Linked DNA regions of Homo sapiens: region 1 is linked to region 2. Evidence: fine-mapped expression QTL. A gene starts in region 2. The other region holds a variant in brackets. All regions are shown on one strand. Distances are between the middles of the regions.

Evidence for each region. PIP is the estimated chance that this variant, and not a neighbour inherited with it, causes the effect. A credible set is the group of variants that fine-mapping cannot tell apart.
Region 1: its variant is the best candidate, but not a certain one, in a credible set for the expression of HGF in whole blood (TOPMed, PIP 0.54).

What each region holds. Positions count from the first base shown.
Region 1 is chr7:81,741,983-81,747,367 of GRCh38, forward strand. HGF (hepatocyte growth factor) reads right to left here. Exons shown (of 18, transcript NM_000601.6): 6 at 3,018-3,138; 7 at 1,371-1,489. Among named protein-coding and RNA genes, the nearest start is that of HGF, 25 kb to the right of the region's middle. The variant G/A (reference allele first, on the strand shown) is at 2,216.
Region 2 is chr7:81,766,879-81,772,263 of GRCh38, forward strand. It overlaps HGF (hepatocyte growth factor), which reads right to left and starts at 3,169. Exons shown (of 18, transcript NM_000601.6): 1 at 3,006-3,169. The coding sequence starts at 3,093.

The DNA of each region.
Region 1 (5,385 bases), 25 kb before region 2:
ATACACACACAAAAAATCAGAAGGGAAACAGTTGGTTTATTATACCTAACTGGTGTAGAACAATGGAAAGACTAATACAATTTAAAAAGCAATGAGTGGAACCAACCCAATCTATGCAGAGAAACACTGTCACAGGAGTCATCTTTTATTTTAAAGGACAAAACACATGATTCAATTTCCTTGGAACACAGTGTTTTACTCTGAAAGGCTTCCAGATTCTTCAGTTATTTATTGTTGTCCAAAGTATTAAGAGTTGTCCAAAACATTTCCTTTTATTAGCAGGTCTAGATTGAGAGAGATTTACCTCGGCAGTACCATAGTGTGGATAATATTCAGTTAGGTTTGTTCAGAGGAACTTCCCCATCATTCTGCTATAGTGAAATATATGAAAATCAATCCATGCCCTCTTAATTATATATTTTACTCTAGGTGCTGGTGCCTGATCTTATGTAGGTTATTTAGCTTTACATGTCTGTCCATATATACATAACTTTATATTATCAGGCCAATTTATAACATTATTATACCTTACTAAATTTATGCAATTCTATTGATTTTAAAGAATTTTAATATCCAGTTGAAAAAAATTAGCCCTGTATTCAAAGAAATGAAAACATTATGTAATATTGTTTAAGAGAACAGTGAAAATGTGTGACTTAACCATAGAGGAGAGGACCAAGTTCACAGATTGAAAGGAACAATATAAAACACGTTAAAAAATAGTTTTTATTGTAAATTCAGAAAAGCTAGGTAAGGGCCAGCATGTAGAAAAATGATTGTATGGACTGCTAAAAGACAGATCGAAACAGAATGCAGGCTGGGTACAAAGACAGCGAGAGAGGTAGGGATCAGCTATAAAGATTAGAGACATCTGTGATAAACTTCTATTAGACTCATTATTCTTCACTGCAGCCTCTGTCACTCACCAGAAGAAGTTCACCATCAGTTGAGAGCCCATGTTATGTCTCTGGGGAGGAAAGGTAGGTAAAGGATACAGGATTGGAAGGTAAGGAACTAAGGTCCTAGCTTTTACTCCCCTAATGACTTTGTGATGCTGCACACATTTCCGATCTTTTTCTCTCTCTGTGGTTTTTTAAATTTTCTTGATAACATTAGAATGTTTAGGCTCTTGCCATAAGTAAAAATGTTTTCTATGGATGTGTGTATTTGCATATTTATCACAGTCAAAATAATCAGTCTCCAAAAATGCAAAAGATTGGGTAGGATTATGTAACACATTCTTAAAATATTAAAACCTGCACACATTAAAGCATCAAGTTAAATAGTTGTTAACCTGTCTCACTAATAATCGCCTGCTTAGATCCAGTCTGTGAGAGGAAAAGGAAGCAATAAATTTGACCTTCACTTACCGCATGTTTTAATTGCACAGTACTCCCAGCGGGTGTGAGGGTCAAGAGTATAGCACCATGGCCTCGGCTGGCCATCGGGATTGCGGCAATAATTATCATCAAAGCCCTTGTCGGGATATCTGCAAACCACACCAAGAAAAGTGTCACGTAAATCTGCCTGGAAACACCACCCACCCCTCAGCTCACAAAATAACTTTCCACTTAGGTTGTCTACACCTAGCTGGGGAAAGAGGACGTTTTCTATGTTTTGCCTTACGAGGACTGCTGATCACTGACTATTGAATCTACTAATTTATATATCCCACTAAGGACAGAGTATCATCCCCTGGCTAATAAGTTAGGTCTATGTGGTACCTTTCCACTAGCTGAGGTTCCAAATCGAGTCTCTTTCTCTTAGAACCCACTTAAGGGCAGATTACAAAAACATGACTTCATGTAGAATGCTCATTAAGAAAACAGGTCCTCTTCTAGGGAAGGCTTAAAGTTCAAACTGAAAGTTCAGTTTCAATAGCGCTGTTACTAATGATAACTCAGTTTTGGAAATAGAGCCCTTCGAGGTCATGCCCTCACCTTCACCAGATCATGAGACAAACTTCATCACACTACTTTCTCCACACCCCACCTCCCTTCAAATGAACAGAGTCCTGAATTGGTGACTTGATTTTAATTGCTACCATATCCCTTCTGCTCTCACTTAAACGACAAGACAAGCATTTATTTGGAAAATAAGCTGGAGTTTTAATTTCATTAAAAATAACACCAAACAAAAAAGAATAGAGAAAAAGAACAAAGAAAAAACACCTAACAGCAATTTCCAAAGAAAGGTGGGGGACGGAATTTCCTGT[G/A]TAATTATTTGTATTTTTATTCTTTATAATCAAAATAAATGAACTTCTTCCTTTTTTTTCCACCTTAAAAGTTTCATGTAAAATACATGGGCAAAAGTAGACATGATTTTTTTTTTTTTTTTGGCGGAGATGGGTAATAATTTAAGCTCAAAACCTATTCCTGGGGATAAAAGATAGATTAGTTGCCTGACTTCTCCAAATTGGCTTTTTATATGGGCAATTTCAAAACACACCAGGACAAAGCAACCTGAATGGTTTGCTCTACTTTTTACTCCCTATGACCACTACTTATGTCATGCTGTTATGTGTGTGGCCTGCAGTACCTGAGTCTCTGAAGATGCTGCTCCAGAAGGAGATTTGCCTGCAATTAGTAACAATACCTCTAATCACAGCTAAGACTTGTCAAAGTGGTCATTACTGAATTGGTCCTGTGGTTTGCTTTGGTTTTGTTTTGTTTCTGCTCTGAGAGAGAAAGAAGCTTCTTTTTGTGCTTCCACTCTATACCCTGCTGATGATTTTGTGTTCAGTACCATGCTGATTTTAGAAACTCTGACCAGTTGGCTATGTAGTCAGTGTTCTCATGTACCTCATCATAAATCTTTTTGCCCTTAGACTATTTCCTCCAAATATAATGGCCAGAAATTCTGTCAGAAGAACTCCTGAACATTCTGGGAGTTCTAAATGTTATGTTCATGTCCTATCGGGAAAACATAATATAAAGAGAATTTCCACAGCAGTGTGTCATAGAGTGAATAATAGTTTGTAAAAGAATCACTGAAAGCATGATTCATTAATATTTTACCTTTCAGGCAAGAATTTGTGCCGGTGTGGTGTCTGATGATCCCAGCGCTGACAAATCTTGCCTGATTCTGTATGATCCATGAGACCTCGATAACTCTCCCCATTGCAGGTCATGCATTCAACTAATAAAATTAAAGTATGGCATGTTAATTGTTTCTGACAGCAAAATCAAAAACACCACTGTTGCATTTAAAGAACAGCACCTGTTTAGTAAACAGATTTTTAAAAAATCCTACACATCATTCTAACTTTTTATTAGGGCCTAATGTCTATAAATAGTGACATAAACTACTCCCTATAGAACACATCATACAGTTTAAGTGGGATTTTTGTACTTAGTGTCACACAGATTTACTATAGGGCCACGACGCTGTCTATCTATTTTTTCAATAACTGTCTCAAAGGTATCTAGAAAATGGAAATAAAAGACAGATCCTTGGAAATTTTTCCCGTGTTGGTCTAAAATGCAAAGATCTCAGTATCTATTTGTCAGCACAATAGTGTTTCTCTCTCAATTTGCCCTCCAAATACATACACAGGAAATACAAAGTTTAATTGAGTTTGTGTCATACTTTTATGGTTAATGACATAATCAAGACCACATAGATTTAAGAGACTGGCTTCATATAGAAATCTGGTGCAATTCAAAGAATACGGATATTTTTAAAAAATAAATCACAGCTCCTTTCTGTTAGCGAACATCCATGTTGAATAAGCTGGGCAGGTTTACATTCCTGTCTGGCTTAGGATAGAAGATGACCTGCTATTGAACTCCATGTTCCCACTCTTTTTAAAATGTATAAGCTAATGTAATTAGGTAGGCTCTTACTGATGATTTTGTGAGGTTAATTCATTGTTCTCTTCTGGCTGGCCTCTTATGTCACACAGAAAACTGAATCACATCAATTGCTGAAAGTGAGACTTCTCAAACAGACAGGTTGATTTGTAGCACAGAAAGCATCCTGTGGAATAAATCATTGCTTGGCTTTCCTATGAATCAGGCAAACTTCCTTAAACACATCATTTGTATCTTGCAATTACTGATCATCTAACTTTAGCTGAAGTGGGAAGAGGCATCAATGTTTAGTTTTATCCAACGGAATCTAGCCTAATGAGTATTTGTAGTAATTTGGGATTATAGTATTAGAATCATCACTTTTGAATCCTTGATTCTTATAATCTAATAGGGACATTAACTATTAACTTTCTGAAACATGCAACAACTTGGCTTGATCCATCTGCTTTCCTTCATTTATATTAATACATTAGCTAAGAGGCCAACTCGGCTTCCCTTCATTTGATACTGAGATTTTCCAGACTACACCCAATAAGCACCTGAACTGTAAATGAGTGGAGTCCATGAGCATATCAATAAAGGTGCTCAGGTTGGCCAGGGTCATAGCAGTGCTCAACATAGGTGATGCAATGTTACATTTCAGCTTTCCATTTGAATGCTTAACAGGTTCATTTAGGTATCTCTCTCTTTTTTTAAAGAACACAAATTTTGATACCGTCAAAGAAAATGATGCAGCATTTATCGTTATTTGTTCCTTCGTGTTGGATGAAATGTACAATAGAGTACTAGGGTCACACATAAAAGATAAGTATTCATATGTACAATTTCTACTCTTGTATAGTACTCAGGAAAGAGATTACATCTATTATGCCTCCTTCAGCAAATGCAGCTTGTGATAGTATATTCCTTTCTAACGAGGGTGAATAGAATTATTTTCTGGTAATCACTACATTGAGCAGTATTATAAAAATTTTTCCTTGACTTACACATTTTAATGGTTTTAAGAAAAAATAGCTACATGAATGAAACAGATGGTTCCATAAGATGACCACTTTCCATTATGAGTGTGGCAGATCAATGCTTGTTCAAATATGAATGTGTGCAAAAACCTCCTTGAGATCCTGTTAAGAGGCAAGTTCTGAGTCAGTGGGTCTGGGCTGGGGCACTAATAACAAGCTCCCAGGCATTGCTGCTGTTGCTGGTACTTGGACCTCACTTTGCTCTGCAACTTTCTAGATAACAGGATCTATTATAAAAGTTCTGGCCAGGCACGGTGGCTCACGCCTGTAATCCCAGCACTTTGGGAGGCCAAGATGGGCGGATCACGAGGTCAGGAGATCGAGACCATCCTGGCTAACACGGTGAAACCCCGTCTCTACTAAAAATATAAAAAAATTAATCAGGTGTGGTGGTGGGCACCTGTAGTCCCAGCTACTCGGGAGGCTGATGCAGGAGAATGGCGTGAACCCGGGAGATGGAGCTTGCAGTGAGCCGAGATGGCACCACTGCACTCCAGCCTGGGCGACAGAGCGAGACTCCGTCTCAAAAAATAAAAAAAAGAAGTTCTAAGTAT
Region 2 (5,385 bases):
AGACCACATGGTTGAGCATGACCTTCAATCCTATCCATTCTACCTCATCTTACTTTTCCACTCACAGACAATATTCCCCATCACATGCCCAATACTTCTGCCTCAAATGCTTGCCTTCAGTTGCTGTGTGGGGTCCTTCCTGGGACATTCCTTATACTTACGAACCTCTGTACCTTGGGCCACTTGTGATCCTGTGCTAAGATACTGACTATTCTACCATCCATCTTTTCATATGGACTTCAGTACCATATAACCCCTTCACCTGGTTTGATTCTCTATGCTGAAAATGAACTCTCAACCATAGTACAAAGTATTTCTAACAGGGTTTTTTGAAAATATATCACTTGGCCAAATGATTTTTTTTAAGTAAATTTCAGTTGATTTCACTGCTGCTCGCTTCAATATAAATGAAAAAAGAAAAAAAAAAAACACCACATAGTTCATTCACATACATTTGGGTAGAAATCTCAGCTCTGTCCCTTAACTCACAAAGAAATAAGATAACTGAGGTCTTTGAACCGGCTAAATGAGTCCAATAGTGCCAATCTTATTAGAATTAAGTGAGATGTACTTTACTACTTGGTTCATATCAGTTGCTCAACAAATTTAAGTTCCTTTCTTATTTGTTCATCTTTACATCCCCCACATACTCTTGAATATTAGGTGCTCATTTAATGCTTCTTTTATTACAGAGGATTGGATATTTGTTTCCCATGTAGGTGGGAGTGAATAGAGGGTAATTCTATATAGGCTAACTCCTACAAAGATGGCGGGGGCCCATTATATTGAATATTTCTTAAGCTTTTAAAAAAGTATCTCCATAGTGTATTCTGTTGATAACTGGTTGTCAACTTACAGTATATACTTCTTTCCTAACAATGTGTTATTTTACAATACATACAAATATAAATTCATAGAATAAATAATTATAATCAAAGCTAGTAACAACAAAAGAAACCTCTAAATAGTCAATATTAAATGTCATTTAAAAAAGAACAAACTTTGTGTGTTCTAAGAGGCTACCCATATTTTTTATTTTAAAGGTTATTAAAAAAAACTATCAAACTGGCCATCTAAACAAAGGCGCACCCTCCTTTGATGACAATTTTAGAATTATCCACTTCAGGAATTATTCACAGCATATTTGTAATTCCCAACTGGACTCTCCTTGCCTGCCAGCACTCTTGGGCTGCATTCTGCCTGTACTCAGGAAACACAGTCATTTCTACATTAGGCAAAGTGAAATATAATTACAAATGTATGTCTCCTGCCAAAAGTTCATAATGCATGCCGAAAACAAATAGACACTGCCTACGGTTGATCTACTGTTTGGGTTTTCCACACTGCGTTCCCCTTGCGTTAGCACAGATGAATTCAGGTAACCAGATTCTACTTAAGAACAGTGACATTTTAATCTTTAAAAATGAAAACCCTCAAAATATTAGCCATTATTTCAATTTAAGCTCAAAATCCCCTAAACCAGCAGTCATCTGTGAAGCATTTTTTTCTTCTTCTTCTTGAGATGGAGTCTTGCTCCGTTCCCCAGGCTGAAGTGCGGTGACACAATCTCGGCTCACTGCAACCCCCACCTCCCAGGTTCAAGAGAGTCTCCTGCCTCAGCCTCCCAAGTAGGTGGGACTACAGGTGCCTGCCACCACGCCTGGCTAATTTTTTGTATTTTTAGTAGAGACAGGGTTTCACCTTGTTAGCTAGGATGGTCTCAATCTCCTGACCTCGTGATCTGCCCGCCTCGGCCTCCCAAAGTGCTGGGATTACAGGCGTGAGCCACCGCACCCGACCCTGTGAAGCGATTTTAACATGACACATGTCAAGCATGATAACCTGCTTGATTTGAACTCACTGCTTTTTCACTTCTTCAGAAATCTTACCTAAATGCTTTCAGAGTGACCCTTTCCAAACAGTGTCATTTTCCAAACGGGCCACTTCACAAAATAAAAGAAAACCAGGTGGGTTGAATGATTTTCCTTTGCATTTAGAAAATTCTTGAGTTTTTTAACCCTTGTACCATATCAAAAACTAGATCAAAGGTCTGATAAATGTCATATTTACCATCTCAAAAGATACAGCCAGTTCTCTTTTTTATATTGTAAAAAGGCCATGTCTCCATCTGGGCATTTGTTCCCACTCTTTTATTCCCCTGCGCCTACCCTTGATATTCACTGCCTTCTCCCGTTGGCACCTCAGCCTCTACAATGATACAACAAAATACAGATGTTTCCTCTTGCCCTGATAACAAGAGAAACTTCCCAGAGCAGCAAACGAGATCTCTAAATCTCCAAGCAATATGAACTTTCAAGCAACTCCTCCCCAAACGGCAAATCCAAGGGAGAAAGTGGGAGACAGAGATGGGCAGTTCTGCAGCTTTAATCAAAGTCTCCGTGCACTGCAGTTTCAAAGGGCAGGCATCCGTACCCAGAAAGAATAAGATCTTTAAAAAGAGGCTTTCTCTTTCATTTTTATGATATGCAAATACTCAGAGTTTATTCTGCCTCCTCAAAATGAAAACCTGTACAAAGTCGTAATTTGGCTCCAAATGTTGACTAGGTGATGTGGAGTAGTGCATTATCATGAAAAATTGTTCTCTGGAAAAGGATGACTTCCTGCCGGACTGACCATCACTCTTGCCTCTTCAGACCAGACCCTCTCTTTAGCTTTAAACTTGTCCAAAGCAGCCAAGTTCAGCCAGTATTAGCACTTCCTCCCTATCTCATAATCCACAACTATTAGGCTAAGTGGGACGGGGCTTGGGTTGGAGGTGGAGGGGAGTTGAGGGAAAGTTAATTATCATTTTAAATGCTATTCAAACAACAACAAAAAAGAATGTCAAAAAAAGCATAATGAGAGCTTTTAGAAACCTATACTACATACTGAGTTCAGAAAGGATGCTGGGAATAGGGTAAAAAGAGGGTGTTAAAAGGAATAGGGAAGGTTAGCAGGAGAGTTAAATACTAATACTAATAATGAAGAAGAAGAAGGGAACTAACCTGCATAGGGGATGGCGATGGGGAGCAGGAGGAGATGCAGGAGGACATGCTGCAGCAGCAGGGCTGGCAGGAGTTTGGTCACCCACATGGTGCTGCTGGACGGGCTGGCGGATCCCTCTGGAGGAGATGCCTGGGTGAAAGAATCCTGTTCGGAGTCAGTGCCTAAAAGAGCCAGTCGGCTCTGAGCTGCTTTTTATTGCGATGAGCTAAGTTTGTTGTGTGATTAACTGGAAAGATCTAGGTCTGAACTCCCTCTTACGGTAAGAAACTGTTTAACAACAGCCCTTTACTCTCTTCCAGCCCCCTCCTTTCCTCACTCGCCCCCCCTTCAACAGCACCAAACAGATCCCTGCAACCCCCCCCATTCCCCGCCTCCCCCCAACCCCACGCTTAGGAAAGAAACTTACAAAGAAAAGGTCACCTGGCCTGAGGCCAGCTTCAATTTGGAAGCTGGAGCTCCAGATCCCAGTGGCTCCTATCCGAGTAAGGAAGGGAGGAGCAAGGCTGAGCCCAATGGCTAAATCAAGGCACAGGCAGGGGACCAATTCGCTCAATTTAAACAGGAAAATACATGTGTTTATATATCTATTTGGGAAAAGAGGAAGGGGAAGCAGCATAAGAAGAAAGCGAAGAGCTGTCTTTCAGCCAAATGTGCCCCAGCTCCTAATCTGTCTAGTTTTCCTGCTAGAGCAACTGAGGGATTCAAAACACTGACACAGGTTCTCTAGGGGTTTAGAGACCTGGGAGAGGTGGGAGCGGGGCCAGGGAGGAGAGCCCAGGCACGTCCAGCCCAGGTAGAAAGAGGTTAGTTAAGAAAAGGGTGTGGTATTGTGGGGCCAAAATAAGCAAGCAAAACAAAAGCACGCAGATTGTCAGATGAAAAAATTGCCCCTGCCCCATGGGCTCAGAGCAGGCAGCTTTTTTTTTTTTTTTTTTTTTTTTTTTTTTTCACAAACTGCCAAACTCACGAAATACCACACATTTACCCAAAGTATACAAAATAAACTTGTCTGATCTGACTTTTTAAGAGAAAGTCCAAGAAACAGTCATTGTCCATAGCCTGTCCCTGACAGGTAAATATGCCATGTGGACTTGTACAGGCACACACGTGCACACAACACATTCACACATGTTGGTGTGTATGTACGTATACACTGGTTAGGACTGACTTTCACCGGAAATCCCTCAAGCTGTTTGAATTCGTGAGTACTGAATATGCCTCTCTTTTCCAGCTTCATCTGCCTGTACACGACAGCCAGCTTCCCAAAGTGTAAGTGGAAAGATGAGGAGCTTGTATGGGCATGGGGGGACTCCTAGGTATCAAATCCTTGTGAGATCATTGCCCAGACCCCTCACTTGATTCAGAGAATTTGTCTTTGCACCCAGAGGTGGATGCTCTGGTAACTTTAAGCAAGAGCCTGCTTTATTTCTAATGGATGCTGAGGGATACTTGCCCCTGTATCTCTCTGAGATGGATATTAGTAGAGAACAGTGCCCCTGTCCACAGAGGAAAAGAAAGCAGGCCAAATGTGGGAATGACTAGAGCGGTGGGTAGCTGTACAGAAGTGATTGTGGGGCTGAATTAAACTCATCCACAGAACAGCCTTCCCTCCACATACCACCTTCATTTGTCCTCCAGCTCCCTTACCCCCACTTTCAGGGAAAAACAACCTGCCTGATAAGTCCCTGAGGTTGTGGGATATCTAGAGAAGCTAGGGATTAAGAGAATTCCTTTTGAGGGATCTATTTTATATGACCCGTTTCTATTGCTAATCCTTCTCTTTTATCATTTTCTCCTTACTTAAAAATCATTTGTCAGCCTCTGTCTGGTGTCCCCAGGATCCATTTTACTTTCTTTTTACTGTTCAGTAGACTTTTTGGGAAATCTCAGTTCAATGCATAGCCTGACCGTGACCCTGAATTGCTCCACTGCATCTCTTGTGCTTTATTAGGGTGTAGGGGCTCAGAAAAATGATACCCCAAATGAAGACCTCAGAATCAGCTCTCTCTGACCTTCTCCTGCTCTCCAGTCTCCGGCCCTTCATTCTCCCCCAAGGCGAGGCATAGAAACTAGAATCCCTCTTTCCCAAGGTGGCTCCTAGAAACCAGAACCCTTTTTCCCAAACCAGCCATAAAACCTAAGCATATCACTCTAACACCTCAACTTTCTGTGTGAAATCTGGCCATAAAGACATTATCTGACCTACCTTGTTTGATCGTAGCTCATAAGACCCCATTCCAAAGAAGGTCCTGCCCCATACCCAGAAGGAATGAGTACTGCACAGAGATACCAGGAAGAATCTCACCTTGCCAGGCGTCCCCACTCAGTCTGTTAGCATGAGATCATATTCCTTTTGTCCAGTTGTATTTCTCCACACCT